Homo sapiens: one gene and its partners. The main gene of each other region encodes a partner of the protein of the gene in region 3 in a complex. Each region holds a gene or a part of one and is shown on either strand. Other genes may lie near its edges. The genes, in order: ATRIP, RAD9A, RPA1 and PRIMPOL. A codon is read from its position in the direction of its gene.

Region 1 (6,965 bases), on a different chromosome or scaffold from region 3:
TGCGTTCCACATATATGGTCATTTGTAAATTGACAGAGTATACCAGGTGCCAGGATCATAATATGGAAGGTAGTGTAACATGGCAGTTAAGAATGTGGACTTTGAAGTCAGATGACTCAGGTTGGGATCCTGGCTTGTCACATACTTGAACAACACCTAACAATAAGACTTCTTTTTTGGCTGGGCATGGTGGCTCAAGACTGTAATCCCAGCACTTTGGGAGGCTGAGGTGGGTGGACCACTTGAGGTCTGGAGTTCGAGACCTGCCTGGCCAACATGGTCAAACCCCATCTCTACTAAAAATACAAAAATTAGCCGGGTATGGTGGCATGCGCCTTTAGTCCCAGCTACTCGGAAGGCTCATGCATGAAGAATCACTTGAACCTGGGAGGCGGAGGCTGCAGTGAGCCAAAATTGCACCACCGCAGTCCAGCCTAGGTGACAAAGCAAGACTCCATCTCCAAAAAAAAAAAAAAAAAAAAAAAATGCTGGGGTCGGTGGCTCACACCTGTAATCCCATCATTTTGGGAATCTGAGGCAGGCAGATCACCTGAGGTCAGGAGTTCGAGACCAGCCTGACCAATATGGTGAGCCCCGTCTCCACTAAAAATACAAAAATTAGCCAGGGCTTGTGGTCCCAGCTGCTCGGAAGGCTGAGACAGGAGAATTGCTTCAACCTGGGAGGCAGAGGTTGCAGTGAGCTGAGATCGTGCCACTGCACTGCAGCCTGGGCGACAGAGCAAGATTCCATCTCAGAAAAAAAAAAAAAAAGGACTTCTTTTTCTGTAAAATGGGTTGATATGGCATGAGGATTAAATAAGCCAATCTGTGAAGTATACAGAAGTGTAGATCTAGACCAGTGCACAGCCAGCCACTGCTTGTACTCCATCTCATCCTCATTTTACCTTTACCTAGAACAGACAGTATCAGTGAAGCTGCTATCCATGCTTGTGTTAAAGTGAATGCCCAATACAAAAGCCAGGCTTTACTAAGGTCCACAGCAGGCCCGTGGGGCTTCTACCGTAAGAACTATATTTTTCCCTAATTGTGACTATTTTTCTTTTGCAGCCACAGGTGGAATTAAGAAATCTGGCAAAAAGTAAGCTGTTCCTTGTGCCTGAGGAGATGGTGACCCTTTATTTCATCTGTATTTAAACCTCTCTATTCCCTGCCATAACATCTTTTGCCACGTATAGCTGGAATTAAGTGTTGTCTTGGAGCTGTTGTACATTTAAGAATAAACTTTTGTAAAAAAAGAAAAATCTTACAGTGGCTCATCATCTCTTTAGTTGTTTTCACTAAGTCGTTCCTACCATAACTGTGAATTTAAAGTAAAACCAGCTCAGAATCTTGCCAGAGTCTGTTCTTTGGTCCTTGTTCTACCCTAAACTTTGTATCACCTGAAATTAAACCAACTCATTTGAAAGGATGGCGTTCTTGTGTGGTTGTATACCTGACAGAATACCTTACATGAGTTTAGTGGAAGAATTTGCACTTTTTTTTGGTGGGGGAGGGGGTGGAGTCTCACTCTCACCCAGGCTGGAGTGCAGTGGCATGATCTCTGCTCAATGCAACCTCCACCTCCCGGGTTCAAACTATTCTCCTGCTTTGGCCTCCCAAGTAGCTGTGGTTACAGGCACCCGCCACCATGCCTAGCTAATTTTTTGTATTTTTAGTAGAGAGGGGTTTCACCATGTTGGCCAGGCTGGTCTCAAACTCCTGACCTCAAGTGATCTGCCTGCTTCAGCCTCCCAAAGTGCTGGGATTACAGGCATGAGCCACTGTGCCTGACCAGAATTTGTGCTTTTAAAAGAAAACCCATCTTTATGTTGTCACATCCAAATTGCCGTATATTTTGATGAGACTTGTTCATCTGTTCATGTAAGGCGTCTGCTATATGCAGGCACTGGGGTATGTAACGGAACAGTTCCTGTTGTCAAGGAACTTCTCTACTGTGGAAGAGGCAGGGCAGGGCAAATTACATGATCCTTCAAGTTGCTAGCAGTGAAGTCCCCATGCGCACCAAACAGGTCCAGGGCAGCAGCTGCGGGAAGCCCCAGCCCACTTGCTGGTGGATGGAGGGGGTGCCAGTGCCAGGCAAGGGGTTGGGGGTGAGGCAAAATGGGGGCTCACTCTACCTCCTGCTGCCCAGGACTGGAGTCCCAGGCATACCTACCGCTTGCCCCTCAATAAATGCAAAGACAGAGACCATCCATAATGTGTGCTGAATATGTTTTAAAATGCTTAGCTGGGTGTGGTGGTGCACTTCTGTAGTCCCAGCCATTTGGGAGGCTGAGGTGGGAGGATCACTTGAGCCCAGGAGTTCGAGGCTGCAGTGAGCCAAGATCACACCACTGCACTCCAGCCTGGGAGACAGAACAAGACCCTGTATTTAAAAAAAAAAAATTAATTCAGAAGCACAAGTATTTGGATTTCCCTCCCAGGCCCTTAATACAATTATGTTAATAATGCTCAGCTTTCTCTGAGAATATTGTCGAAGAGCGCTCTGGAACCATTATGAGACTGCTAAATCAAAACTAGGTTTTAGAATATTGAAAACTTTCATGATTAATGTACTAGATATTAACGCGGGAGAGGGGGCAGGGGGAAGCCTGTGTTGGTCCTCTCCAGAAAGTTGCACAGCCAGTAGCACCCTTCAGTAGGCTTCAGGCATTCCCTGTGGGGCCTTGCTAGCTGGCACCCAGCCGTATGCTGCTAAAACAAACCTGAGCACCAGTGATTCACACTGTTCCTGAAAGCAAGTTACTTGGTGGAACCTATCCCTCTTTAACAAATGAACAGTCCTGTCTCTTTCCAGGACCAGAGTCCTGCAGCAATTAAGCATGCAACACTTGGGAAGCTATCTGACGGAGACTACCAGTTGCTCCAAAAAATTTTAAACTCCTTAGACATTATAGGCCCTGATAGCACTCTCTTTTTCATTTACTCTTTTCATTTAATGCTTTCACAAATATTCCTAGGACACTCACAGGTGAAGTTTGGCACTGAGCAGGTAAGGCTGAAAGAGTCTTGCTCCTGTTACTCTCCATTGCCAAATTCTCTATTGCGGCTAACTTCTGCACACCACAGCTGCCCAATAAAATCTGTCAGGCACGCAAGCCCACCTCAAATTGCTGCTCCTTTGTGAAGCTTTACCTCTGTTCGCCACCGGTAACTCTTACCTGGCCTTTGTGTGGCCTCCCTTTCAATGTAGAATTCTCGTGTTAGTCTTATGTGCCAGCCTCCTACCCCTCTATCCTGCTAACTTGACTCAACTTGTAGGACAGCGCAGGTGCCATTTACAGGGGGACTTCCTTGACCTCCTGAGCCCTATTCTATACAACCAGAGCTTAGGAAAAAAAAACAGTCCAGCACTCAGAGGAATGGATGTTAACAGCCTGAGCAGCTCCCACCCCCTCCCACACAAGAACAGCTCCAAACATCATTCCTCCTTGGACTTTCCTCCTCCCTGGGCCTACCTCAAATGTACACATGTGAAACATTCACTAAACCCGAAGATGTCTGCACACGACAGCTCTATTCATACTCCTCACCCAACAAATTCCACTCTCCTCAAGAAAGCCTAGGGGTTTGTGGGAGGTGGGTCTGGCGGCAGAAGGAAAGCGAGGTCACGGAGACCACATCCCTGAATGATGCCTGGCTCGACTCAAACGCAACACGCGTGAATGCTAGGGCAGGCTGCTCCTGCGCGGCCCTCCTCCACGGAATGCCAGGGAGGGAGCGCAAAGCCACCAGCGCGGCGGAGCTGGTGCGCCTCCGGCCCGCCTCTCCGGTAACGGGTCGCGCCGCACTGAGTCCTTGCAGCAAACCTGCCGAATCCCGCCCGTGGACCTCTAAACACCGGGCGGGGCCGGGTGTGGCGGCGCGCTCGGACGTTCGTCATTCCTCCGCGCCCTCCGCCTGCCAGCTGATTGGCCCCTGGGCCAGGGGCGGGGCACTCGCGGCGGAGGCAAGCGGCGGCGCGCGGACGGTTGGTCCAGTTCTCCGGCCTGGCGGCAGGCAAGTCTAGCTCGGCGCTGTCGGATACTTGGGGTGAGCGGAAAGCATGGCGGGGACCTCCGCGCCAGGCAGCAAGAGGCGGAGCGAGCCCCCGGCGCCTCGCCCCGGCCCGCCGCCGGGCACCGGGCACCCCCCGAGCAAGCGGGCCCGGGGCTTCTCCGCAGCCGCTGCCCCGGACCCTGACGACCCGTTCGGCGCGCATGGGGACTTCACTGCCGACGACCTGGAGGAGCTTGACACCCTCGCGTCACAGGCCCTGAGCCAATGTCCGGCCGCGGCTCGGGACGTGTCCAGTGAGTGCTCCTCGCGGCCTTTTGCTCGGAGGGAGTTGTCAACCGCGCCAGATCCCCTTGATGGCTGTGGCTTCGGAACCTCGCGGCCAGCACTGCCTTTTCGCCTTTTTAAAATATGGGAACACCCTGATTTAAGCAGCGGTTGTCTTCCAGAAGGTCCTTTGATTTTAGGGGGAAATGCATTAGCCAGGTCAAACAGCCGATTTGAAACACAGAAGGCTAAGTTGACATTTTACGTTATTTTCTAAAGTTTAGGCCACTTGGTTCTTGGTTCTAAGCAGAGATCCTTGGAACACACCTACCACCACCATCAGAACCATCACTACCCATGCATGGGGACCCATTCTTGTGACAAGTTTGAGCGGCTTTAGATCTTATGAAGCCCACTGTCTCCCTTGGGCAGTGTGAGCATGGGAGGAGCCAGACACAGGCAAGAGATGAAATAAATTTATTCTTTTATACAACCAGTAAACTGTGCTAGGTGCCCAAACGTGAGGAACTGCAGCTGACCTTACAATGAACAAAATACAAAAACTGTCCTTCATGGAGCTTACATTCTAGTTGAGGAGTGAGTGAAGTCTTGAGGACTCCCAGAAAGAGAAATGTTTTGAGTGCACCTTGCATCTGTACTTGGGTGTCTCAAGGCACCTTAAACTCAACACGATCATTTCCTGGAAACCCAGTCCTCCTCCAGCACTTCTAGCATGGTGCCGGCAAAGCAGACATTCAGAGAATGATGACCAGATGTTCCACAAGGAAGTAACTAGCACGACTCTCCATCCAGTGGCACAAAGCGACTCTTCCCCTTTCCTTGACTCTACATCTAATTTATTTGGAAAGCATGTCAAGCTTACCTTCTTAATCCTTCTCTGGAGTCTATCCTATTCACATTGCTTCTACCAGCTGCCTGATCTGTGTTACCATGAGTCCTCTCTTGAACAATGGTCTGCTAAATTGGTTTCCCATTTCCAGTCTTGACTCCCTACAAGTGAGGCTTCACATCACATTCTGAGTGATCTTTTCAAAACTCAAATCTGGCTGTGTCTTACACAGATATACGTGAACACCCTTTTTTTTTTTTTTTTTTTTGACGGAGTCTCACTCTGTCACCCAGGCTGAAGTGCAGTGATGCCATCTTGGCTCACCACAGCCTCTACCTCCCAGGTTCAAGAGATTCTCTTGCCTCAACCTCCCGAGTAGCCTCAGCCTCCCAAGTAGCTGGGATTACTTGTGCCCGCCACCATGCCTGGCTAATTTTTGTATTTTTAGTAGAGACGGGGTTTCGCCATGTTGGCCAGGCTGGTCTCAAACTGCTGACCTCAGGTGATCCACCCGCCTTGGTCTCCCAAAGTGCTGAGATTACAGGTATGAGCCATCCGCACCCAGCCATGAACACCCCTAATGAAAGCCCTTTAATAATTTCTTATTTCTTCTAGTGTGAAGACCAGAATCCTTAACATGGCCTGAAAGGCCCAGCCTGGTTTGGCCCTTTCTCACTCTCTGGGTCCTGGCTGCACTAACATTCTTTGAATTCTCTCTGCTTCTTTACAATACAGGAACTTTATACATTGTTCTTTCTTTGTACATTGAGTATACTTTTCATTCATTCATTTCCACTCATCTGGTTAATTCCTACTTGTCCTTCAGCTCTCAGCTCCTTCAAGTCTTCCCTAGGGAAATGTTCCAATCATCCCACTTAAGTCAGATTGCTGTCATATTATAGGCTTTCCTATATTTGTTCTCTTCTGCAGTTCTTAATCACAGTTGTAATTTTACATTTATCTGTGTGATTATTTGTTGAATGTCTTTTAAGCTCTGTGAGTGTAAGGAAGTATCAATTTTGCTCACTATTGTACCTGTAGAGCCTAACATGCCTGGCATATTGCATGTGGTCAGTAACTATTACTGAATAATAAGTAGATCATTGAGTTCTGGCCAATGAGATCTCCTCAGGCTTTAGATGAGACTCTTGGAATTGGATGAAGGATAGGGAAAGAATAATAGGATCTGTTGTTTTAGAAGGATCATTTATGAGTTTCAGCCGGGTGTGGTGGCTCACGCCTGTAATCCCAGCACTTTGGGAGGCCAAGGTGGGCTGATCACTTGAGGCGAGGAGTTTGAGACCAGGCTGGCCAATATGGTGAAACCCCGTCTCTACTAAAAATATAAAAATTAGCCGGGCGTGGTAGCACACGCCTGTAATTCCAGCTACCTAGGAGGGTGAGGCACAAGAATCGCTTGAACCTGGGAGGTGGAGGTTGCAGTGAGCCGAGATCACGCCACTGCTCTCCAGCCTGGGCAACAGAGCGAGACTCTGTCTCAAAAAAAAAAAAAAAAAAAAAGAAGGATCATTTATGAGTTTGAACCATGTTCTTAGGTTGAAAAACATCTATATTGCTTACTAGATCTTTCCCTGCTTTGCTCTCAAGAGTAATTCTTCCCAGCACTTTGGGAGGCAAAGGCAGGAGGATTGCTTAAGCCCAGGAGTTCAAGACCAACCTGGGCAACATAAGGAGACCCAATCTCTACAAAGAATTTTAAAATTAGCCAGGCATCCAGGCACAGTGGCTGACGCCTGTAATCCCAACACTTTGGGAGGCTGAGGCGGGTGGATCGCGAGGACAGGAAATCAAGACCAGCCTGGCTAACATG
Region 2 (7,760 bases), on a different chromosome or scaffold from region 3:
GGGGGCAGGGACGTATCCTACCACAGCTCCCGACTTCCCGCTCTAGGCTTCTTGCTGTTCTAAGCCCTTCAGAAAGTTCCAACGAGTTCTGACTTTTGGCAAGGGGGTGGGAGGGTGACTGAAAACTACTCAATACGAGTCGAAAGAGTGTATGTCAGCTGGGGGCAGTGGCTCACACCTGCCCCTGGCTGATATAAAAGGCAGACATGGTTCCTGGCCTTGTGAGGTAGACACACTAGTGGAGAAGACAGATATGAAACATATGAAAAAAAGCTTATGTGTCCCTTCTCTTCTGCCTAGGGTCCTCAAGGTCATAGAACCCCATAACCCCATTAGGTGTCAGGGGCAGAAACAGGACTGTGTGAAGATTCACAGCCTCCACCTCCCTTGCCTTCACGGAGCTTCGGCATCTACCCTTATTCCAGGCGGCTGCTCAGGTAATGAGTATGAGGCAGAGGTGGGAAGGCTGTCCTGGTTTACACGTGGTGGGGGAGGGGTCCAGAGCGCAGGATGAGGCTGAGAGCATGGGGACAACTGTCAAGCAGGGACAGATGGGACTGTGGGTGGAGGGCTGGAAGTTGGATGTTTCTCTCAGCACTGTGCTAAGAGTGACTTAGAGACATCTCAGCTGCATTTGGCTCACGCTGATTTATTTATTTGTTTGTTTGCTTATTTTTCCATGCCCTTTGTCAACAGGAATGGTTTACAGATATTTATTCATTCATTCATTTTTTGAGACAGAATCTCACTCTGTTGCCCAGGCTGGAGTGCAGTGGCGCGATCTTGGCTCACTGCAACCTCCACCTCCCAGGTTCTAGCGATTCTCCTGCCTCAGCCTCCTGAGTAGCTGGGATTACAGGCACGTGCCACCATGCCTGGCTAATTTTTGTATTATTAGTAGAGATGGGGTTTCACCATGTCGGCCAGGCTGGTCTTAAACTCCTGGCCTCAGGTGATCCACTTGCCCCGGCCTCCCAAAGTGCTGGGATTACAGGCGTGAGCCATAGCGCTCGGCCTACTTTTTTTTTTTTTTTTTTTTTTTGAGAAAGGGTCTGGCTCTCTTACCCAGGCTGCAGTGCAGTGGCGCTATCTCAGCTCACTGCAATCTCCACCTCCTGGGCTCAAGTGATCCACCAGCCTTGGTCTCCCACAGTGCTGGGATTAAGCATGAGCCGCCGCGCCCGGCTGGTTTACACATTTTTAAATGTAACACCTATTTATTCATTATTTACTGAGTGCCAGACCCTGTGTGAGGTACATACAGCAACAAACAAAACAGACATGGATGCTGGGTGTGGTGGCTCACGCCTGTAATCCTAGCACTTTGGGAGGCTAAGGCAGGAGGATCGCCTGAGCCCAGGAGTTCAACTCCAGCCTGGGCAACAGAAGGAGACCTTGTCTCTAACAAACATTTAAAAAATTAGCTGGCTGTAGTGGCATGCGCCAGTAGCCCTAGTTACTCGGGAGGTTGAGGTGGAAGGATCGCTTGAGCCTGGGAAGTTGAGGCTGCAGTGATCTATGATCGTGCCACTACACTCCAGCCTGGGTGACAAAGCAAGAACCCATCTTAACAAACAAAACAAAACAGAACAAACAAAACAAAGCCAAGGCCGGGTGCAGTGGCTCACGCCTGTAATCCCAGCACTTTGGAAGGCTGAGACGGGCAGATCAGTTGAGGTCAGGAGTTTGAGACCAGCCTGGCCAACATGGCAAAACCCCATCTCTAATAAAAATACAAGAATTAGCCGGGCGTGGTGGCACACACCTGTATTCCCAGGTACTTGGGAGGCTGAGGCACAAGAATTGCTTGAACCCCAGAGGCGGAGGTTACAGTGAGCCGAGATCGCGCCACTGCCCTCCAGCCTGGGCGACAGAGCAAGACTCTGTCTTCAGAAAAAACAAAAAACCAAAAACCAGACATGGTTCCTGCCCTTGTGAGGCAGACACACTAGTGAGGAAGACAGATGTTAAACAGGCAAACACACGCATGAAATAACGTGATAAGTGCTGTGGCTAAAACAGGGTCTAGCTAGAGTGTAATGGGATGCTGGTGGGGGCAGAAAAGACGGCACTGAGCCTGGAGGAAGAGAAGCACCGCCACGTTAGAAGGGGTAAGACGATGCCAAGTGGTGGGGACAGCTAAGGATGTGCTAAAATCCCCAGGTGGAAAAGGAAGTGGAGGGTTCAGGGAGCCCACAGGGTTGGCATGGCTGTGCAGGTGATCAAGGGGAGGCCACAGGTGGAGAAATGGGTGGCGGCGGCTCCTGCAGGTTCAGGGCAGAGTTTGGATTTTATGGCAACCACTGGAGTGTGCAAACACGGGAGAGGCATGACACAATGGACATTTTAGGAGGGTCACTTTGCTGCTGTATGGAGAGTGGCCTGGAGGGGGCAGGGTGGAGGCAGGAGACCACTGAGAGCTGTTACAGTCATCCAGGTGAGAGGATGGTGGCCTAGGCCTTGGAGATGGAAGAGGAGGGCAAAGTTGCCACCTGTTAAGTTGCCACCTGTTTGGGAAGCAGAGTGGTCAGGACTTAACTGAAAGACTGTGTAGGGGTGAGGGCGAGCATGAGGTCAAGGATGACTCCAGCATACTGAGCCGGATGCCCAGGGACAGGGGCACTATTTCCATGGATCCCCCGGGAAGGGGAAGGGAAGAGTAACCTCCTCCCCCAAGGCTCCACGGAAGGGGCAAGGGCTGGTGACGAGGGGAGCAGAAGGGAAGGAGAGGGAGAAACAAAGTGTATGCATGTATCCAAATGTGTACAATTATTATGTATCAATTCAACTCATTTGAAAGTGGGTCTGGAGAGCAAGGGTGGCAGAGATAAATATATCTTCTGCACTACCACAGGACCTGAGGGGCAAGGCACGGGCAGGCCCTGCAGGAATACAGGGATGCCCTGGGCCCTTCCAAGAACTACCAGAGCCTTGGTACTGTGGGGAGAGTAGGGGTCAGTGAGTTTCTCCAGGACTCCCTTACATTTTACACACGTGGACCCGGAAGCCCAGGGGAAGGGGAATACCTTCCAGCTGATGCATCCCCACCTGGCACACAGTCTGGTTTTTTTTTTTGAGATGGAGTCTCACTCTGTTGCCAGGCTAGAGTGCAGTGGCGCGATCTCGGCTCACTGCAACCTCCGCCTCCGGGTTCAAGCAATTCTCCTGCCTCAGCCTCCAGAGTAGCTGGGACTACAGGCGCGTGACAACATGCCCGGCTACTTTTTGTACTTTTAGTAGAGACGGGGTTTCACCATGTTGGCCAGAATGGTCTGGATCTCTTGACCTCGTGATCCGCCCGCCTCGGCCTCCCAAAGTGGTAGGATTACAGGCGTAAGCCACCGTACCCGGCCAGTCTGGGGTCTTTTAAAAATACAGACCCGGGGCTGGGCGCGGTGGCCCATGCCTGTAATCCCAGCACTTTGGGAGACCGAGGCGGGCGGATCACTTGAGGTCAGGAGTTCGAGACCAGCCTGGCCAACATGGTGAAACCCGTCTCTACTAAAAGTACAAAAATTAGCCAGGCGTTGTGGCAGGCGCCTGTAATCCCAGCTACTTGGGAGGCTGAAGCAGGAGAATCGCTTGAACCTGGGAGGCGTGATCGTGCCACTGTACTCCAGCCTGGGCGACAGAGCGAGGCTCTATCTCAAAACAAACAAACAAAAAAACCCCACACACACACACAAAAAACAAAAAACAGGCCGGTGCAGTAGCTCACTCCACTTTGAGAGGCCAAGGCGGAAAGACAGCTTGAACCCCACAGTTGAGACCGGCCTGGGCAACATGGCAAGACTCCGTCTCTACCCAAAAAAAAAAAAAAAAAAAAAGGGCCGGGCGTGGTGGGTGTGCCTGTGGTCCCAGATACTCAGGAGACTGAGATGGGAGGATCCCTTGAGCCCAGGAGTTCCAGGCGGCAGTGAGCCGTGTTCGCGCCACTGCACTCCAGCCTGGGTGACAGAGCAAGAATATGTCTCAAAAAACAAACAAACAAAAAAAGGCACATAACCACGATCTACCCTCGTAAAACGTTTCCAGAGCGTCCCAGCGGTGCCCCTCATCATCTGGCGGCCCCTACGCCTCTCTGAGACTCACAGACCTACTCCCCTCTCCAGGGGGCGGAGCCCACACCGCTGAGCATTTACTCTTGTTCTTCCCTCTGCCAGGGGCACCGTTCTACCCCTTTCTGCCTGGAGAAACTGCCGTTTTTCCTTAAAGGATCCTCGAAGCCGGAAGGAGCAGCCACCTCCCACTCCCGGCTGCTGCAAGCAAGCTGCTTTGACTTCTTTCTAGAGTTGGGGATTGCTGCTGGAGTCCGAGTCTCAGGCCCAGAGTGGGTGCGATGGTCTTGCTTGCACCCTGTATCCCCCGGCAGACGCCCGGGAACTCTACTAAGTGGGTGACCCCAGAGAGCTCGCCCCCACACTCCGACTCCGAGTCCAGCACTCGGTCCACTGCACAGGGACCTCGCGCCCCACAGCTGCGTCCTCTCTGACCTTCGCAATCCGGTGCGCGGCCCGCGGAACGCCCCGATCTCCAGGGGCACGGAAGGCCGAGGCGTGCCGGGGGAGCCAGGAGCAGCTGGCTGGCGGGCGCCGCGGGCCTCCCCGGTCACGTGACACCCCGGACAACGTGCGCCGTCACGTGACGGCAGAGCCTGTGAGCGTTTTTCTCACGTGACGGAGGCGCCTGCACGTGGACCAATGGGGAGGCGGGGGCGGGGCCGGCAGGGGCGGTGCGCGGGAAGGGACCCCGGACCCGGAGGTCGCGGAGAGCTGGGCAGTGTTGGCCGCTGGCGGAGCGCTGGGGCAGCATGAAGTGCCTGGTCACGGGCGGCAACGTGAAGGGTGAGTGCAGGTCGGCCTGGCAGCGGCGGTGCAGCAGCCGCGGAGCCGCCAGCCTAACCCCCTTCCGCTCTTCTCCCCGCAGTGCTCGGCAAGGCCGTCCACTCCCTGTCCCGCATCGGGGACGAGCTCTACCTGGAACCCTTGGAGGACGGGGTGAGGGGCTAGGGTGTGGGGGGCGGGTGGGACTCCAGCCGGGAGCGGGTAACCCGGACTAGAGTCTCGCCCCCACTAGGCGGGATGACCGCTGGCAGATTTGTCGGCAAAGTTTCAGTTTCTTAGTCTGGCGGCTGTCATCTTCCCAGGCCGGTGTGTGAATTGAGGAAAGCTGTCCTGCGAGCTCCCAGGGGGTGACGTGCACTTAGAGAAACTCGGGGAAGGCCTGGGTGTGCGACCCCTCCTCTGCGGCAGCAGCGCCGGGGCCGACTCTGAAGGCTTCCATGGGGAAAGGAGGGTTTTTCAGCAGGTGGTGGCGGAGCGGGAGGACGATAGGGCAAGTGTGTGAGCAGAAGCAGCCAGAGGGCTGGGTCTGTGGCTGCCCCCTGACCACGTCCCTCTCCCTGCTCTTCGTGGCCCAGCTCTCCCTCCGGACGGTGAACTCCTCCCGCTCTGCCTATGCCTGCTTTCTCTTTGCCCCGCTCTTCTTCCAGCAATACCAGGCAGCCACCCCTGGTCAGGACCTGCTGCGCTGTAAGATCCTGATGAAGGTGAGGCCCTTCCCTCAGCAGTGGCACTACTCCACCCCAGGAATCTCCACCAGCTGTGCCTCTGCCCTGGGGTACTCAGTAGATGCTAAGTGGGGAGAGAGACACGTGCAAGCCCAATCCATGCAAAACACAGGGAGGGCCATGGTAAAAGCATCACAGCGGGGACCTGAGAGGGTGGTGACGCTCAAGTTCGTCAAGAAAGGTAAGCACGTCTTTTGGCCGGGCGCGGTGGCTCACGCCTGTAATCCCAGCACTTTGGGAGGCCGAGGCAGGCGGATCACGAGGTCAGGAGTTCGAGACCAGCCTGGCCAACATGGCGAAACCCCGTCTCTACTAAAAATACAAAAATTAGCTGGGCGTGGTGGCACGCGCCTGTAATCCCAGCTACTCGGGAGGCTGAGGCAGGAGAATTGCTTGAATCCGGGAGGTGGAGGTTGCAGTGAGCTGAGATCGCACCACTGCACTCCAGCCTGGGTGACAGAGCGAGACTCCATCTCAAAAAAAAAAAAAAAAAAGGTAAGCAGGTCTTTCAAGGCATTCCAAGCATAAGGAAGAGCATGAATGAGGCCTAGAAGGATGCCAGTGCCCGAGGTGACGTGGGAGCCCTTTTCCCAGAGTTACATGCTGGGCCCATGATGGGTGTGGGCCTGCATGGGACAGGAGAGCTTGTTGCAGAGATGTGATGCTAGGCTGAGGTGTCTTATCCCATGCAGTCTTTCCTGTCTGTCTTCCGCTCACTGGCGATGCTGGAGAAGACGGTGGAAAAATGCTGCATCTCCCTGAATGGCCGGAGCAGCCGCCTGGTGGTCCAGCTGCATTGCAAGTTCGGTGAGTGGGCAGCCGGCCAGCCAAGGGGTGCCTCAGCAGGGAGGTCGGCGAGGCCCACTGAGACCCTATCGCCCATCCAGGGGTGCGGAAGACTCACAACCTGTCCTTCCAGGACTGTGAGTCCCTGCAGGCCGTCTTCGACCCAGCCTCGTGCCCCCACATGCTCCGCGCCCCAGCACGGTGAGCACACCCCTGCCCTCAGCTCAGCCCCGGGTCTCTCTCTTCCTTCTTTGGGGCCCCAAGGGGTTGATTTTAGAAGGTACCTCTTTCATTTTCCCTACAGAGTTTCTGTGAACCTCAAAGACATCCCATGGCCCGCTATGTGCTCAGGTCCTTACCTGGCTCTTTAAAGGCAGACGGTGGCATGGAGGAGGGGCAGGCGCCTCCTTGCTCCATTCTCCTTACTGTTAGGAGCCTGCATTCTCCATCCCAAAGGTCTGACTTGACTTTCTGGCTGCTCAAACCCATTCCAACTCCTCCTCTAGGGAGCACATTTCTGGCCTGCCACCAAATCTCTTGTCTGGCTTGAGTAACCTTGAAGGTCTGCCCATAACCTGTGGCTCAGAGGCTCAGACCCCTTCTCCGGCCTGGGCATCCTTCCAGAGGTGTTCCCCATTCAACGGCAGCCTCTTTTCCTGACTGCCCAGGATCGAGGAGTCCCCAAGGCCAGGGCAGGAGGCTGGAGGGAGGCTGAATAATCAGCTATGGGGTGGAGCTGTTCTGGGCAGTCCGAGCACTGGGGGCTGTCTGGGGCCAGGGAAATGGGGACTCCAGTTGAAGCAAACGTCCCTGGCGAGGACCAGCTCAGAGAGGAGTGGGCTCTCCCCCTGCTCCATGCTGGTCACTGCTTGCATTCAAGTGGCCCAAGGTCCTGCTCATTTCTCAGGGTGACTGAAGATCCCTTTGGGTCCTGACATCTGTTTCCCCAGGTTCTTTTGAGCCAGCACTGCTCAGAGCTCTTTTGGGTAGTGAGAGACGGGGGCCAATTCCTTGGTCTGCATTTAGGGTGGTGTCTTTTTTTTTTTTTTTTGAGACAGAGTTTCGCTCTTGTTGCCCAGGCAATGGCACGATCTCGGCTCACCACAACCTCCGCCTCCCGATAAAAGTGATTCTCCTGCCTCAGCCTCCCGAGTAGCTGGGATTACAGGCATGCGCCACCATGCCCGGCTAATTTTTTGTATTTTTAGTAGAGACAGGGTTTCTCCATGTTGGTCAGGCTGGTCTTGAACTCCCGACCTCAGGTGATCTGCCCGTCTCAGCCTCCCAAAGTACTGGGATTACAGGCGTCAGCCACCACACTCAGTCTCTTTTTTTAAAAATGAGCAATTGTTTCTCTCGTTTTGTTTTGAGATAGAGTCTCGCTCTGTCACCCAGGCTGGAGTGC
Region 3 (7,038 bases):
TGAAACATATATACACAATTTATATACAATGTAAATGTAAAACATTTACATTGTAAATAGGGTAAAAAAGATAAACAGATTGGGAATAATTTATACAACAAATAGTAACTTACATAGCAAAGAACTATACAGCTAGATTTATGAAGATCTCCTACAAATGAACAAGAGAATAAAGACAACCTGCTAGAAAATGGGCAAGGGACACAAATAGGCAATACACACGAGAAATAAAAATGCACTGGGGGGCCGGGCGCAGTGGCTCATGCCTGCAATCCCAGCACTTTGGGAGGCCAAGGCGGGCGGATCACCTGAGGCCAGGAGTTGGAGACCAGCCTGCCCAACATGGCGAAACTCCATCTCTATTAAAAATACAAAATTAGCCGGGTATGGTGGAATGCGCCTGCAATCCCAGCTACTCGGGAGGCTGAGGCAGGAGAATCACTTGAACTTGGGAGGCGGAGGTTGCAGTGAGCCAAGACTGTGCCACTGCACTCCAGCCTGGGCAACAAGAGCAAAACTCTGTCCAAAAAAAAAAAAAAAAAAAAAAAAAAAGAAAAGAAAAGAAAAGAAATGAAGACTAACAAAAAAAGTATAACCCTAACTGTACCGAGTATCTGAACTGGCAAGGCTCAAAACTGAACTCATTATTTCATTCAATTAATATACGAGCGCCTACTATGTGCCTGGCACAAAGATAAAGACATCAACCTTGAACGTGAAAGGTGTGTGTTTCTGGATCTGCAAATATATAAGGTTCTGCTTTATACGTCATTTTAAGCACTAATAACAGCCAGTAACTAAACTAAGAACTTTATATACATTACCAAGTTGTCATTCAATTAATGTTTACTAACCACTTATTTTTTGACACTGCACTATTTTTGTCTATAGAAAGACAAACAGGCCGGGCACAGTGGCTCATGCCTGTAATCCCAGCACTTTGGGAGGCTGAGGCGGGCGGATCATTTGAGGGCAGGAGTTCAAGACCAGCCTGGCCAACATGGTGAAACCCTGTCTCTACTAAAAATACAAAAATGTGAGCTGGGCATGATGGTGTACGCCTGTAATCCTAGCTATTTGGGACGCTGAGGCATGAGAATCGCTTGAACCCAGGAGGTGGAGATTGCAGTGAGCTGAGATTGTGCCACTGCACTCCAGACTGGGTGACAGAGTGAGACCCTGTGTCAAAAAAAATAAAATAAAATAAAAATAAATAAATAAATAAATTAGCCGAGCATGGTGGTGTGCGACTGTAATCCCAAATACTCGGGAAGCTGAGATACGAGAATTGCCTGAACCCGGGAGGCGGAGGCAGTGGGCTGAGATTGCGCCACTGCACTCTAGCCTGGGTGACAGAGCGAGACAGTCTCAAGAAAAAGAAAAAAAGAAAAAAAAAAAAAGAAAAACAAATACAAACACGGTCCCTTCCCTCATGAAGTTCACAATCTAGCGGCAAAGGCAGGCATTAGTCAAAAGAGCACACACATATATAAAGGAAAATCACACAGCATTGTAAATGTACAAAGAGTGAAGATGGCCCAGCTGAGGCTCAGGGAGAGCTTTCCTGAGGAAAGATCTGGCTAATCCTGCAGGATGACAGAAGTGAATTAGTTCACAGGACACGCTGGGATAGAAACGAACCAGGAAAAGTACTTCAGGCATTTTCCATCAAAAAGAGATGTTACCAGGCCAGACATGGTGGCTCACGCCTGTACTCCCAGCACCTTGGGAGGCCAAGGTGGGAGGATTGCTTGAGCCCAGAAATTTGAGACCAGCCTGGGAAACAAGCAAGACTCAATCTTTATTTAAGAAAAAGACACATTACTTCAGAGCAAATGACAAAATAGAACATTTTTTGGCTCACAATTCCCTTGTTAAAGCTTGATTTACTTACTGAAGAAGTGAAGAGGAGTGAAGAAAGATATCCCTCAAGGTCTCTGCTGTAGAAATTGTGACCTGAACAGACGTCGGGAGTGAAGCCCACTTTTGAAGCAGATATGATTTCCATTCATCCACAGGCAGATCCATGCTGCTTTTGATCTATAAAATGAGTAAGAAAATAGGAATCTTACAAATGCACAATTTTAGAAAATCAAGAGTTCAGCCAGGTACGGTGGCTCACACCTGTAATCCCAGCACTTTGGGAAGCCGAGGTAGGTGGATCACGAGGTCAGGAGATGGAGACCATCCTGGCTAACACAGTGAAACCCCGTCTCTACTAAAACTACAAAAAAATTAGCCAGGTGTGGTGGCGCACACTTGTAGTCCCAGCTACTCGGGAGGCTGAGGCAAGAGAACTGCGTGAACTGGGGAGGCGGAGGTTGCAGTGAGCTGAGATCACGCCATTGCACTCCAGCCTGGGTGACAGAGCAAGACTCTGTCTCGGAAAAAAAAAAAAAAGGAAAATCAAGATTTCATTCAAGGAAGCCTGAAACAATAAAATCAATTCTTGTGGTCTTTTCCTCTAGTTTATATGCTAAGGAAGGATCTATATTTTCTCACAGCAATTCACTCAACATCCTTCCATTCAGAAATATTTACTGAAAGACTACTTTGTCACAGGCACCATGCAGGTGATGGTTATACAAAGACGAAGCAGACTAGATAGCTACCATCTGTGCTCTTAGATCCTCTTTTTTTTTTTTTTGTGAGGCAGAGTCTTGCTCTGTCACCCAGGCTGGAGTGCAGTGGCACCATCTCGGCTCACTGCACCCTCCGCCTCCCAGGTTCAAGCAATTCTCCTGCCTCAGCCTCCGAGTAGCTGGGATTACAGATGCGCGCAACTACGCCCGGCTAATTTTTGTATTTTTAGTAGAGACGGGGTTTCACCATGTTGGCCAGGCTGGTCTCGAACTCCTGACCTCAGATGATCCGCCAGCCTTGGCCTCCCAAAGCGCTGGGATTACAGGCGTGAGCCACCGCGCCCGGCCTGATCCCTCTCTAGTTTCTCTGAGACACATCCCAGATTTTTCTTTCTCACCCACCCCAGCAACTATTCATTTAACAAGGTATTTCCCTCTCTTACATAGTTCAGCGTTCTGATTAAGTCCTCACCATCTCGTCTGGCATTCTTCCTAGAGTGTTATAATTAATGTCCATGCCATTGGCACCACTCCCCACTTTCAATCCAGCCTCCAACACTGAGACAGAAGTCAGTGCTCTGCCCTTAAATTCATCAACGCTACTCCAAGCATACCAGGAAGCCCAGGACAAAACCATCCTTACTTGACCCTTGTCTGACTTTCTAATTCTCAGGTGTCACTTACTCCTCTGCATGCACCCTTGCATACTGAACAACTCATTGCTATCCCCGGCTTGCCAGGCTATTTCAACTCTCCAATGTTTTGGCATAGGCTACTCATGCTTTCCGGACCAACCCTACCCTGGCTTATGGAGTCCACCTGGAAAATTCCCACACGTTCTTCGACTCGGCTCAAATGGCACCTCCTCCGGGACGGCGTCCCTGATTTCCCAGCTGTGATTCCAACACCCTTGGGGCCTGTACCACGTCTACCTGGAGGTGGGGTTACTGACGGCATAAAGTGCCCCCACACACTGTCCTCTTCTCTAAGGACGGGGGCCGGGTCTGATTCCCTTTCGGAGACCCCCCACCCCCACCCCCCACCGCCACGGTGCCAAGCTCAGGGCTTGGAGGCGGGAAGTCAGCCCCGCGTTGCTGGACGAATCGGGTCACTACTGCGACTCTATTTAGCAGCGGAGGTCTCAAGGAACAGCTTTAACCTCCTCTGGGATACCAACCCGTGCACTCGCCAGAGACCGAGGCGAGAACGCCTCGAGAACCGCTCAGACGCGCCCGGAACTGCGCCCTGGTCTCCCTCCCAGCGCCCGCGCAGCTCCTGGCGCGCCCCTTGGCGCCCCGCTCCGCCCCGCACCGCGTCCGGCGTCCCGCGCCAGGCCTCGCTTGGGACCATGGGTGGGTCACGTGGGCCGCGCCTCGGCCAATGCGGCGGCTGCGTAGCGCCCGGGCCCGCCCCTGAGCCGCGCGCACGTCGGGGGCGGGAGCGGTGCGCGCAACTTCTCGGGCCAATAACTGCGCAGCGCGCGGGACCCGGGTGGGGAAGCTGGAGCTGTTGCGGGGTCCGCGGGGAAGTCTTGGCGGTGGAGCCATGGTCGGCCAACTGAGCGAGGGGGCCATTGCGGTGAGGAGGTGCCGGGGGCTGGGCCGGCGGTCCGGGGTGGCTGCGGCCCCGAGCCTCGCGGAGTAGAGAGGGGGAGGGGAGCCCGGGGCGACGGGGGATGAACGCGAGGGGAGGAGATGGCGGGGGGCGGTGGGGACCCGCCGGGCGTCCCTCTAGTGTCATCGCCCCCTCCTCAAAGCATTCTTTCGATCGTCTTTAAAACATGCTCACATTTTTCCTACGTAAGAACAAACTAAATAAACGCTTGCCTTTCTCTGCATCTTCCACCTGCGGACACTTTCTGTCTCTTCTCCTTTCCCCACCCACAGCCAAACTTCTTGTCTGGTTTCAGCCACTTCCTTTCCTCGCCTTTCATCAACTCTTTAACCCACTCCAGTCATCCCTTTGATCGCTGTAGAAAACCCTGGCTGAAGGTACCAGTGGCCTCCAAGTTGCTAAATCCAGCCCTTTTCCGTTTTCAGCTTACCTGAGTTCTCAGCAGCGTTTGCGTTTAAGCCCTGCTTGCTTCAGGTCACACCCTCTTCCTTGGTTTTTAGTGGCTCAGCTTGGCAGGTCTATCCCCGTCTTATTTGTAAGTCCCTCTTTGTAAATTTTTGTTGAATCAAGGCTCCCTCTAGGCCCTCTTGACTCCCGAGGCAATTTCTTTTTTTTTCTCCAGCCTGGGCGACACTCACTGTCGCCCAGGCTGGAGTGCAGAGGCGCGATCTCGGCTCACTGCAACCTCCGTCTCCCGGGTGCAAGTGAGTCTCCTGTCTCAGCCTCCCGAGTAGCTGGGACTACATGTGTGCGCCACCACACTCGGCTACTTTTTGTGTTTTTATTAGAGACTGGGTTTCATCATGTTGGCCAGGCTGATCTCGAACACCAGACCTCAAGTTATCCGCCCGCCTCGGCCTCCCAAAATGCTGGAATTACAGGCATGAACCACCGCGCCTGGCCCCAAGGCAATTCCATTGCCATCTATTAATATATGTCAGTTGCTCACAAATTTCTTTGTACAGAGCCACCTTTACTCTAAAAGACAAACTTCCGTCATCTGTCTGCTTATTCCATGCTTCAGAGGGTTTTAAGTTCAGTATACGTATCCCAAAGCAAATTCTTTATCTTTCTAAGTCTGGGCCTCTTGATCCCTATCTCCACGGATGGCACCATTATCTATTCAGTTCAGTGCTAACCAGAAATTGAGAAATCATTCCTCCTATATTGTCCATTACCTGGGCATCCAGTCCCTCACGAAGTGAAGTGTATTTTGCCTCTGCGTAGATCTATCAAGCCCACTGGCTTCTCTCCATCCATACTGGCACCGTCTTTTTTTTTGCCTGAGCTGCTGACTTCCACTCAGCATACGTTCCTGCCACCATTCCCATCCACAGCATACTCTCAGCCTACCTCTCCAGTCACCCCCACATTTTTTTTTAAATTTAGATTTCTGGTATATTCCATACTCCTACCTTCTTCCATGGGGCCTTTGAACTTTTTTTTTTTTTTTTGAGCTGGAATCTTGCTCTGTTGCCCAGGCTGGAGGGCAGTGGCGCGATCTCGGCTCACTGCAAGCTCTGCCTCCTGGGTTCACGCCATTCTCCTGTCTCAGCCTCCCGAATAGCTGGGACTACAGGTACCCGCCACCACGCCCGGCTAATTTTTTGTATTTTTTAGTAGAGACGGGGTTTCACCGTGTTAGCCAGGATGGTCTCGATCTCCTGACCTTGTGATTCGCCCGCCTCGGCCTCCCAAAGTGTTGGGGTTACAGGCGTGAGCCACTGTGCCCGGCCTTTTTTTTTTTTTTTTTTTTTTTTTTGAGGCAGAGTCTCACTCTTTCTCCCCATACCCCCCCACTACCGCCCCAGGCTGGAGTGCGGTGGCGCAATCTCGGCTCACTGCAACCTCTGCCTTCTGGGTTCAGGCAGTTCTCGTGCCTCTGCCTCCAGAGTAGCTGGGATTACAGGCATGTACCACCACACCTGCGTAATTTTTTGTATTTTTAGTAGACACGGGGGTTTCACCATGTTGCCCAGGCTGGTCTTGAACTCCCAACCTTAGGTGATCCACCCTCCTCGGCCTCCCAAAGTGCTGGGATTACAGAAGTGAGCCACCGCACCCGGCCCTGAACATTTTTTTCCCTCTGCCCACTGCCTGGGTGGTTCTTCACTCTTCCCCACACTGGCAAACACTATCTTCGTATCTCAGCTCATTTGTGACTTCCCTTACTAGGCTAAATCCCTTTGAGACCCCAATTCCTGTTCATTCACTTATTGAATTATTTATTTTTTTTCTTTTTGAGATGGAGTCTTGCTCTGTTGCCCAGGCTGGAGTGCAGTGGCACGATCTTGACTCACTGCAACCTCCGCCTCCTGGGTTCAAGCAATTCTCCTCCCTCAGCCTCCCAGGTAGCTGAGAATACAGGAGACTGCCATGATGCCCGGCTAATTTTTGTATTTTTAGTAGAGATGGGGTTTCACCATGTTGGCCAGGCTGGTCTCGAACTCCTGACCTCAAGCAATCCACCTGCTTCGGCCTCCCAGAGTGCTGGGATTACAGGCGTGAGCCACCGCGCACGACCCCATTCACTTATTAGATGCATGACTTGAGGCAAGATACTAAACTGTTTCTTTTCTGTAAAATGAGAGCAATGATATCTATTGCATAAGGTAAGTAGGAGGATGGAGTGAGTTATTAAATTTAAAGTGCTTAGCACACTGATACATAGTAAATGCTCAGTGTTTATGTTACCTATTAATAATTGCAGTTTTATGTTTGTTGATTTATCAGTTTCTTTTTAAAATTTTAAAATTATTGTGTTTGTTTGTTTGTTTGTTTTGAGACAGAGTCTTGCTCTGTTGCCCATGCTGGAGTGCAGTGGCACATTCTCGGCTCACTG
Region 4 (7,020 bases), on a different chromosome or scaffold from region 3:
AAATCATAGAACTAGAGTATTGGCAGAAAATGCAAAATACTGATGAATCTAATCTCAGGGTAGAGGGAGAATTTGGAGTTGGGGAATAGGAATTGACCAGTGATGAGAAAAAAAGAAAAAAGAAAAGGAGGGAGGAAGGAAGGAAAGAAGGGAAAGAAGGGAGGGAGGGAGGAAGGAGGGAAGGGAGAAAGGAAGGAAGGAAGAAGGGAAGGAAGGAAGGAAAGAAGGGAAAGAAGAGGGAGGGAGGAAGGAAGGAAGGAAGAAGGGAAGGAAGGAAGGAAAGAAGGGAAAGAAGAGGGAGGGAGGAAGGAAGGAAGGAAGAAGGGAAGGAAGGAAGGAAAGAAGGGAAGGAAGGAGGGAAAGAAGAAGGAAGGAAGGAAGGTAGGTAGGTGAGAAAGAAAGAAACTGAGAGAACTAGGCTAGGAAGAACCATGGCCAGGCTGGCTTCAGGTCCCCCCAGAAACTGGTAAATAGGAAGCATGTGCCCCCTCCTTCAGCTGCTCCTGGAATCCAGACCATCAAGTGTCACAGCTGGGCAAGGCTGGGCATAAACGCAGGGAAGCTGGGGCTACTTAGGTCTGCGTCATCTCTCCCCTTCCATCCCTGCTGCCTCTTCTCCCACTATAGTTACTCGAAAAGAACTAACATAGCCTTTTTTCTAGCTTGACCCCCTTTGGTTGAAAGATCAGTATCAACCATGCTTAAATAATCAAACATGGTTAAACAAACATTCTGTGCAATGTTAAGAATTAAATAATAGAAACTCTTTGAGCCCAATCTTTTATTTTGTTTTTTAGTAGAGATGGGGTTTCACCATGTTGGCCAGGCTGGTCTCGAACTCCTGACCTTGTGGTCCACCCGCCTGGGCCTCCCAAAGTGCTGGGATTACAGGTGCAAGCCACTGCACCGGGCGGAGCCCAATCTTTTAAAATACAATAAAAGTTTTCCTTCGGAACTTGGAAACTTACCAAAAATAGTTACAGTCCCTGAGTGGAAAGGAGCTTTGATACACAATTATGTAAAAGAAAGACAACACTCTTTCACCACCGGGAATGAAAAGCATTTCTAATATGGTGACATATTCCCCCAGAGGGGAGGGATGAGGAATGTGATAGTCCCAAACCAGAATGCCAGATGCCTTACTGTTCTCCATTTCCTTTGCTTTTTGTAATTCAACCCTCCTGCTGGACTACACCAAGCCCCAGTTGTCTTCTGATGCTCAACCCAGCTGTTAAAATTTTCAAGCTGTGCAGATATGAAGGGGGCATGACATATACTGAACTTCTCTTTCTTCTTCTGTTGATGCTCATGGTTTCCCCAGTTCAGTGAGTCTTAAGCTGTTTTTTCATTGTGACTCCATGATGTTCCTGTATGACATACTCCCGTGGTCCTACCAAGACTTTTACAAAATCAAACAATTTTTCATGATAAAATTTCAGTGTCACGAAGTACGAATATCCACATAGTCATTTGTAGTCAGTTATTGGTAGATACTAGCTAGATTCAGATGTGATTGCATTCTGTATTTATTTTCTTCACTAATAATCAATGGACTTTGTTAAAAGTTAATAAACTTCATGATAGAAAGTCAGTTTCTCAATTAGGTTTATCTAAGTATAGCAGATTTTTAGCTGCACGTGAAGCAGATCAAAGTAACTGAATACTCAGAATCTAGCAATAAGGAGCCATATCACTTTGTATTGACAAGTTAAAGCAGTTTTTTTTTTTTTTTGAGACAGAGTCTCGCTCCGTTGCCCAGGCTAGAGTGCAGTGGCACGATCTTGGCTCACTGCAAGCTCTGCCTCCCGGGTTCACGCCATTCTCCTGCCTCAGCCTCCTGAGTAGCTGGGACTACAGGCACCCACCACCACGCCCAGCTAATTTGTTTTGTATTTTTAGTAGAGACAGGGTTTCACTGTGTTAGCCAGGATGGTCTCGATCTCCTGACCTTGTGATCCGCCTGCCTTGGCCTCCGAAAGTGCTGGGATTACAAGCGTGAGCCACCGCGCCCGGCTGAAGCAGTTTTTAAAAAAATTGCTTCATCTCCTCCATCCAGTGAATTGATATTTTCCCTAAGCATACCTGTTATGAAATTTATGTTAGTACCTTTAGAATTATATTTCTGTTTCCTAGTATATACTTTATATGTGGATTAGGTATAACTCTGAGAGAATATCTTTCTTAGGTCTGTTACGATTGATGTCAAATTTGAAATCTGCGGATAATATGCCTTTGTTTTTTTTCTAACAAGGTCATGATGTACTATCCCTTTTTTTTTTCTTTTCTTTTGAGATGGAGTAGTCCCAGCTACTCAGGAGGCTAGAGTGCAGTGTCATAATTTCAGCTCACTGCAATCTCTGCCTCCTGGGTTCAAGCAATTTTCCTGTCTCAGCCTCCCAAGTATTTGGGATTACAGGTGCCCGCCACCACGCCTGGCTAATTTTTGTATTTTTAGTAGAGACGGGGTTTCACCATATTGGTCAGGCTGGTCTCGAACTCCTGACCTCAGGTAATCCGCCCTCCTCTGCCTCCCAAAGTGCTGGGATTACAGGCATGAACCACGGCGCCTGGTCTACCCTCTCGTAATCTTTTTTTTTTTTTTTTTGAGATGGAGTCTTGCCCTGTCACCCAGGCTGGAGTGCAGTGGTGCGATCTCGGCTCACTGGCACCTCCACTCCTGGTTCAAACTATTCTCTTGCCTCAGCCTCCCGAGTAGTTGGGATTATAGGTGCCCACCACCATGCCCAGCTAATTTTTGTATTTTTAGTAGAGACGGGGTTTCACCATCTTGGTCAGGCTGGTCTCGAACTCATGACCTCATGATCCACCCGCCTCAGCGTCCCAAAGTGCTGGGAATACAGGCAGGAGCCACCGCGCCTGGCCCCCTTTCTTAATCTTTTAGGGAGATTCTGGTTTTCCTTCCAGGAAATACTCATTTGCCAATGAGTTTGTGTTGCTGCAAAGTTTTCTGCTAAAATTCAAGACAATGTTTATCAACTCAATAAGCACAAATGTGTTACCAAAGAAATAGGACTTCACTGTTAAATGATTTAGTACATATTATTTCACTTCAAAAAAGCCCCAATATATCTGTTTTCCACATAGGTAAATTATGGCAGAGATGATATTAATGAAGAGAGGAACTCTATTAATTACCTATTTCTATGTCAAAGCCAGCCCCAAACTTACTGGCTTAAAAAAGACAAAACAACCAAATTTATTTTTTTCTTATAGCTCTGTGGGTTGGCTGGGCAGTTTGATAGGTCTCTCTGGGACTCAGGCTTACTAATGCGTTGAATTCAGATGACGGCTGGATGTCCGGAATGGCCCAGCTCACATATCAGACTGCTTATGCTGGCTGTTGGCTGCAATTCCTTGGTTCTTTTCCATGTGGGCTTTCATCCTCTATGAGGCTAGAGTTATGGCATGGCAATCTCAGGGCAGGACTCTGGGATAACCAAGTCTGCTGCAAAGGCACTCGTTAAACCTCTGCTTGCTTCACTTTTGTCAATGTGATGTTGGCCCAAAACAAGTCATATGGCCAAGCTGAGAGTCAGTACGAGAGTGAGTTTAGGTGCCATCTCTTGATGGGAAAAATGGCAAGGGGTTTGTGGCTGATTTGGCTGTTTTTAATCTAGAGTGAAAGTTTTCCCACTCTTCTAAAAACCTATTCTTTTTCTTTTGTAAATGAATTATAATCCCAAATTGGAAAATTATTGCCTGGCCCCCTTACTCTGGCGTGGTTGACATGGAAGTATTATATAGAAAGAAAAATCATCCATTACTACAGACATCCAAAACTAGCCCAACTAAAAGTTGTGTTGAGAGAGAAGAGGAGACATGGACAGAAACAGAGGAAAAGGGAACTAAGAGCTGTACATTGGTATCTAGAAATGAATTCTACACTGAGAAATAATAGCACAAGAATGGGTGGACAAGGTCATAGCACGTGATACAATAAAATGGTTATAGTAAAAACCACAGTGATACAAAAAGCACATATATTTACATGAGGCTTTGTAATTTAGAGATTGCTTATGTCTTACCACATTTATCTTCAAGCTAAGTATATAAAGTACTCAAGATGATATTGATTCCCATTTTTCAGTTGATTAAACTAAGATTCAGGGCGCTTCATTAACCTGTCCAAGGTCATAATACCATTAGATGAAGAACCAGGATCTAAGAATTTCTGATAACCAGCCTTGCTCTCATTCTGTGGTAAAACTTCATGCAAAGAATAAACAAGAAAATAAGTGTCAGGAAGTGAGTTTTGAAACTTTATCAAACAAAATATATTCTAAACAAAGAAATTAATGGCCTTTTTGTTTGTTGTTTGTTTTAGTAGTAATTGATAGAAATATTACGTGGGATAGGATTTATTCTCTCCACACTTCTGAACCAATGAATAGAAAATGGGAAGCAAAACTGAAGCAAATTGAAGAACGAGCATCTCATTATGAGAGGAAACCGTTGTCCTCAGTGTATAGACCAAGATTGTCCAAGCCAGAAGAACCACCCTCCATCTGGAGACTATTTCATCGACAAGCTCAAGCTTTTAATTTTGTTAAAAGCTGTAAAGAAGTAATTTCCTCCTCCTCCTCTTCTTCTTCCTCCTCTTCCACTTCCTCTTCTTTCTTCTTCTTCTTCATTATAATTTCAGTTCTTTAAAAAAAAAAGTCTATTATTTGTCTTCATTTCAGGCCATGTATTCTACCAAGAAAATTTAATGGCAATCTTAATGGCATGTGATTTAGGAAAAATATTCCTGTGAATCATTAACCATTTAATTTATATTAGTAATGAAAAAGAATGACACATCTAGTACCAATTAGTTTTTAAAAATTGTGATGATATTTAAATGAAGCTTTATGCTTAGAGGGAGGGGAACCATATTTATTTCAACACAGTAAGCAAGTAGGAGAAAGAAGTGTCAGCCTTTCAAAGAACATGGTGCTGAAAAATAAAAATCACTGGCCGGGCGAGGTGGCTCATGCCTGTAATCCCAGCACTTTGGGAGGCCGAGACGGGTGGATCACCTGAGGTCCGGAGTTTGAGACCAGCCTCACCAACATGGAGAAACCCTGTCTCTACTATAAATACAAAATTAGCCGGGTGTGGTGGCGTATGCCTGTAATCCCAGCTACTCCCAAGGCTGAGGCAGGAGAATGGCTTGAACCCGGAAGGCGGAGTTTGCTGTGAGCCGAGATCGCGCCATTGCACTCCAGCCTGGGCAACAAGAGCGAAACTCCATCTCAAAAATAAATAAATAAATAAATAAATAAATAAATAAATAAATATCACTAAATCAAGCAACAGATGTGTATTGCACATTCTTTTTTTTTTTTGGGGCACTGTGGGGAATGTAAAGAAATATGAAAGAAACGATAAGATGCTTATATGATAGCATAAGTGTGCTGTGAGTCTGATCACTGTTGCTGTATAAAATCTCCAAGTGCTGGAAGTTTTAGAAGGACCTCTCTTTCTCTAGTAAGGGTAGGCTTACTCAAATCTCATGAGAATGGTTTAAGAAATACCTTTCTTAGGCATTTTGGGTAAACCTAATTCAAGCAGCAGAAATTAAAATACTGACAGATTCATTTGAACTTGAATTTTAAAAAGATATAGATAGGGGTATGCTTGTTGGACTTGCTAATCACCAGTCTATAAAATTTATTTCAAAAAGGTTTTTGTTAGGGTTAAGCAACTGAGTCCTGTGATTTTTCACTCATGAAAAGAAAAATATGCTCACCAGCTACCTTTAGCTAAGAGGAAACAAAAGAACTTGTGGATGTATTCCTCTATTAGAAGAACCCTTATGGCAGGAGGCATGAGCAGTTATATTTAAACAACTACCGCAGTAATTAACCTTTAAAAAAATGGTTCCGGCTGGGTGCGGTGGCTCATGCCTGTAATCCCAGCACTTTAGGAGGCTGAGGCAGGCAGATCACTTTGAGGTCAGGAGTTCGAGACCAGCCTGCCCAGCATGGTGAAACCTCGTCTCTACTAAAAATACAAAAAATTAATCGGGCGTGGTGGTGGGCACCTGTAATCCCAGCTACTTGGGAGGCTGAGGCAGGAGAATCGCTTAAACCTGGGAGACAGAGGTTGCAGTGAGTCGAGATCACGCCACTGCACTCCGGCCTGGGCAACAGAGCAAGACTCTGTTTCAAAAAAAAAAAAAAAAGGCTCCTACATACATTTTTTTATGTACTGGGGAATTTACTAATCAATTTTAGCCCAAATCATTTATAATAATAAGTAGTTTTGAAAAATAAGTTTAATTTCATAAACTAAGAAATAAAACTATCATAGGAAGTCATACAAGTAATATTTTTAAGAGTGGTTTCTCTCCTTTTTTCTCTTTGGTCTGCATATTCTAATTGTTTTCACCTTTTGTATGAATGATTAAAAAATAGGTATAATTAGATTTTGAATGGCATAAACCTAGTGACTATTTGTCTTGTTTTTAATAATACAAATGTTCAAATTACAGTTTCTGAAAACTTGAATGAAAAATTCTTTATGAACATTCAGTAGCTACAGTTGAGTTTAGGTTTGCATTTTGTGAATTTTTCTGAATTCTTTTTTGATTTTATGCAGGACGTTCATGTATTTGCTTTGGAATGCAAAGTAGGAGATGGACAACGTATTTACCTTGTGACAACCTATGCTGAATTTTGGTTTTACTATAAATCCAGGTAGGTAGCATGCAGCAGAACCACACATTAAGCTAGAGTTCCATTTCCTTTGCCTAGGAATTTTGGTGAAATTAGTTCAGGCTGAATTGGCTTCCACAGTTCGTGACCACACTATTAGTTGCTCTTAGAATTGAATTCTGGAGTTTTCTTGTCATAGCAATGCTTGAGTATCTCACCAGGTGCTGGGAGAAAATAATCATGCACATACACGAATATATGCGTGTACTCAAAGGGAGTTTTGAAATTTCTCTTTTGCAAACAGGTATTAAATTATACTATTAATCACAAAGGAATATTTATGTTACTTACCTAGTAATGA

The links.
Region 1: the proteins of RPA1 (region 3) and ATRIP are in contact, whole or in part, in a crystal structure (PDB 7XV4), measured with the Homo sapiens proteins. Residues at the interface, in NP_002936.1 of Homo sapiens: Ile33, Thr34, Arg41, Arg43, Ser54, Met57, Thr86, Leu87, Lys88, Asp89, Arg91, Val93; in NP_569055.1 of Homo sapiens: Gly53 (codon at 4,223), Asp54 (codon at 4,226), Phe55 (codon at 4,229), Thr56 (codon at 4,232), Asp58 (codon at 4,238), Asp59 (codon at 4,241), Leu60 (codon at 4,244), Glu62 (codon at 4,250), Leu63 (codon at 4,253), Asp64 (codon at 4,256).
Region 2: the proteins of RPA1 (region 3) and RAD9A are in contact, whole or in part, in a crystal structure (PDB 8JZY), measured with the Homo sapiens proteins. Residues at the interface, in NP_002936.1 of Homo sapiens: Asn29, Arg31, Ile33, Arg41, Arg43, Leu44, Leu45, Ser54, Ser55, Phe56, Met57, Asn85, Leu87, Lys88, Asp89, Arg91, Val93; in NP_004575.1 of Homo sapiens: Asp297, Phe298, Ala299, Asn300, Asp301, Asp302, Ile303, Asp304, Tyr306, Met307, Ile308, Met310.
Region 4: the proteins of RPA1 (region 3) and PRIMPOL are in contact, whole or in part, in a crystal structure (PDB 5N85), measured with the Homo sapiens proteins. Residues at the interface, in NP_002936.1 of Homo sapiens: Arg31, Pro32, Ile33, Thr34, Thr35, Arg41, Arg43, Leu53, Ser54, Ser55, Met57, Asn85, Leu87, Lys88, Arg91, Arg92, Val93, Tyr118, Asn119, Glu120; in NP_001332824.1 of Homo sapiens: Asp514, Asn515, Gly516, Ile517, Asp518, Asp519, Tyr521, Phe522, Leu523, Glu524, Ala525.

What each region holds. Positions count from the first base shown.
Region 1 is NC_000003.12:48,442,780-48,449,744, forward strand, and holds the start of ATRIP (ATR-interacting protein), read left to right. Parts: upstream 1-3,957; 5' UTR 3,958-4,066; coding exon 4,067-4,313; intron 4,314-4,346; exon of another isoform or gene 4,347-4,743; intron 4,744-6,965. Other genes in the region: TMA7 (translation machinery-associated protein 7), read left to right, coding at 1,069-1,103. UniProt on the Homo sapiens protein: Required for checkpoint signaling after DNA damage. Required for ATR expression, possibly by stabilizing the protein.
Region 2 is NC_000011.10:67,387,235-67,394,994, forward strand, and holds the start of RAD9A (cell cycle checkpoint control protein RAD9A), read left to right. Parts: upstream 1-4,751; 5' UTR 4,752-4,810; coding exon 4,811-4,844; intron 4,845-4,926; coding exon 4,927-4,997; intron 4,998-5,007; exon of another isoform or gene 5,008-5,281; coding exon of another isoform or gene 5,282-5,419; coding exon 5,420-5,548; exon of another isoform or gene 5,549-6,255; coding exon of another isoform or gene 6,256-6,261; coding exon 6,262-6,376; intron 6,377-6,456; coding exon 6,457-6,556; intron 6,557-7,760. UniProt on the Homo sapiens protein: Component of the 9-1-1 cell-cycle checkpoint response complex that plays a major role in DNA repair. The 9-1-1 complex is recruited to DNA lesion upon damage by the RAD17-replication factor C (RFC) clamp loader complex.
Region 3 is NC_000017.11:1,825,967-1,833,004, forward strand, and holds the start of RPA1 (replication protein A 70 kDa DNA-binding subunit), read left to right. Parts: upstream 1-4,038; 5' UTR 4,039-4,127; coding exon 4,128-4,160; exon of another isoform or gene 4,161-4,168; intron 4,169-7,038. Other genes in the region: protein-lysine N-methyltransferase SMYD4, read right to left, coding at 1,895-2,028. UniProt on the Homo sapiens protein: As part of the heterotrimeric replication protein A complex (RPA/RP-A), binds and stabilizes single-stranded DNA intermediates that form during DNA replication or upon DNA stress.
Region 4 is NC_000004.12:184,652,737-184,659,756, forward strand, and holds part of PRIMPOL (DNA-directed primase/polymerase protein), read left to right. Parts: intron 1-4,345; 5' UTR 4,346-4,404; coding exon 4,405-4,584; intron 4,585-6,603; coding exon 6,604-6,701; intron 6,702-7,020. UniProt on the Homo sapiens protein: DNA primase and DNA polymerase required to tolerate replication-stalling lesions by bypassing them.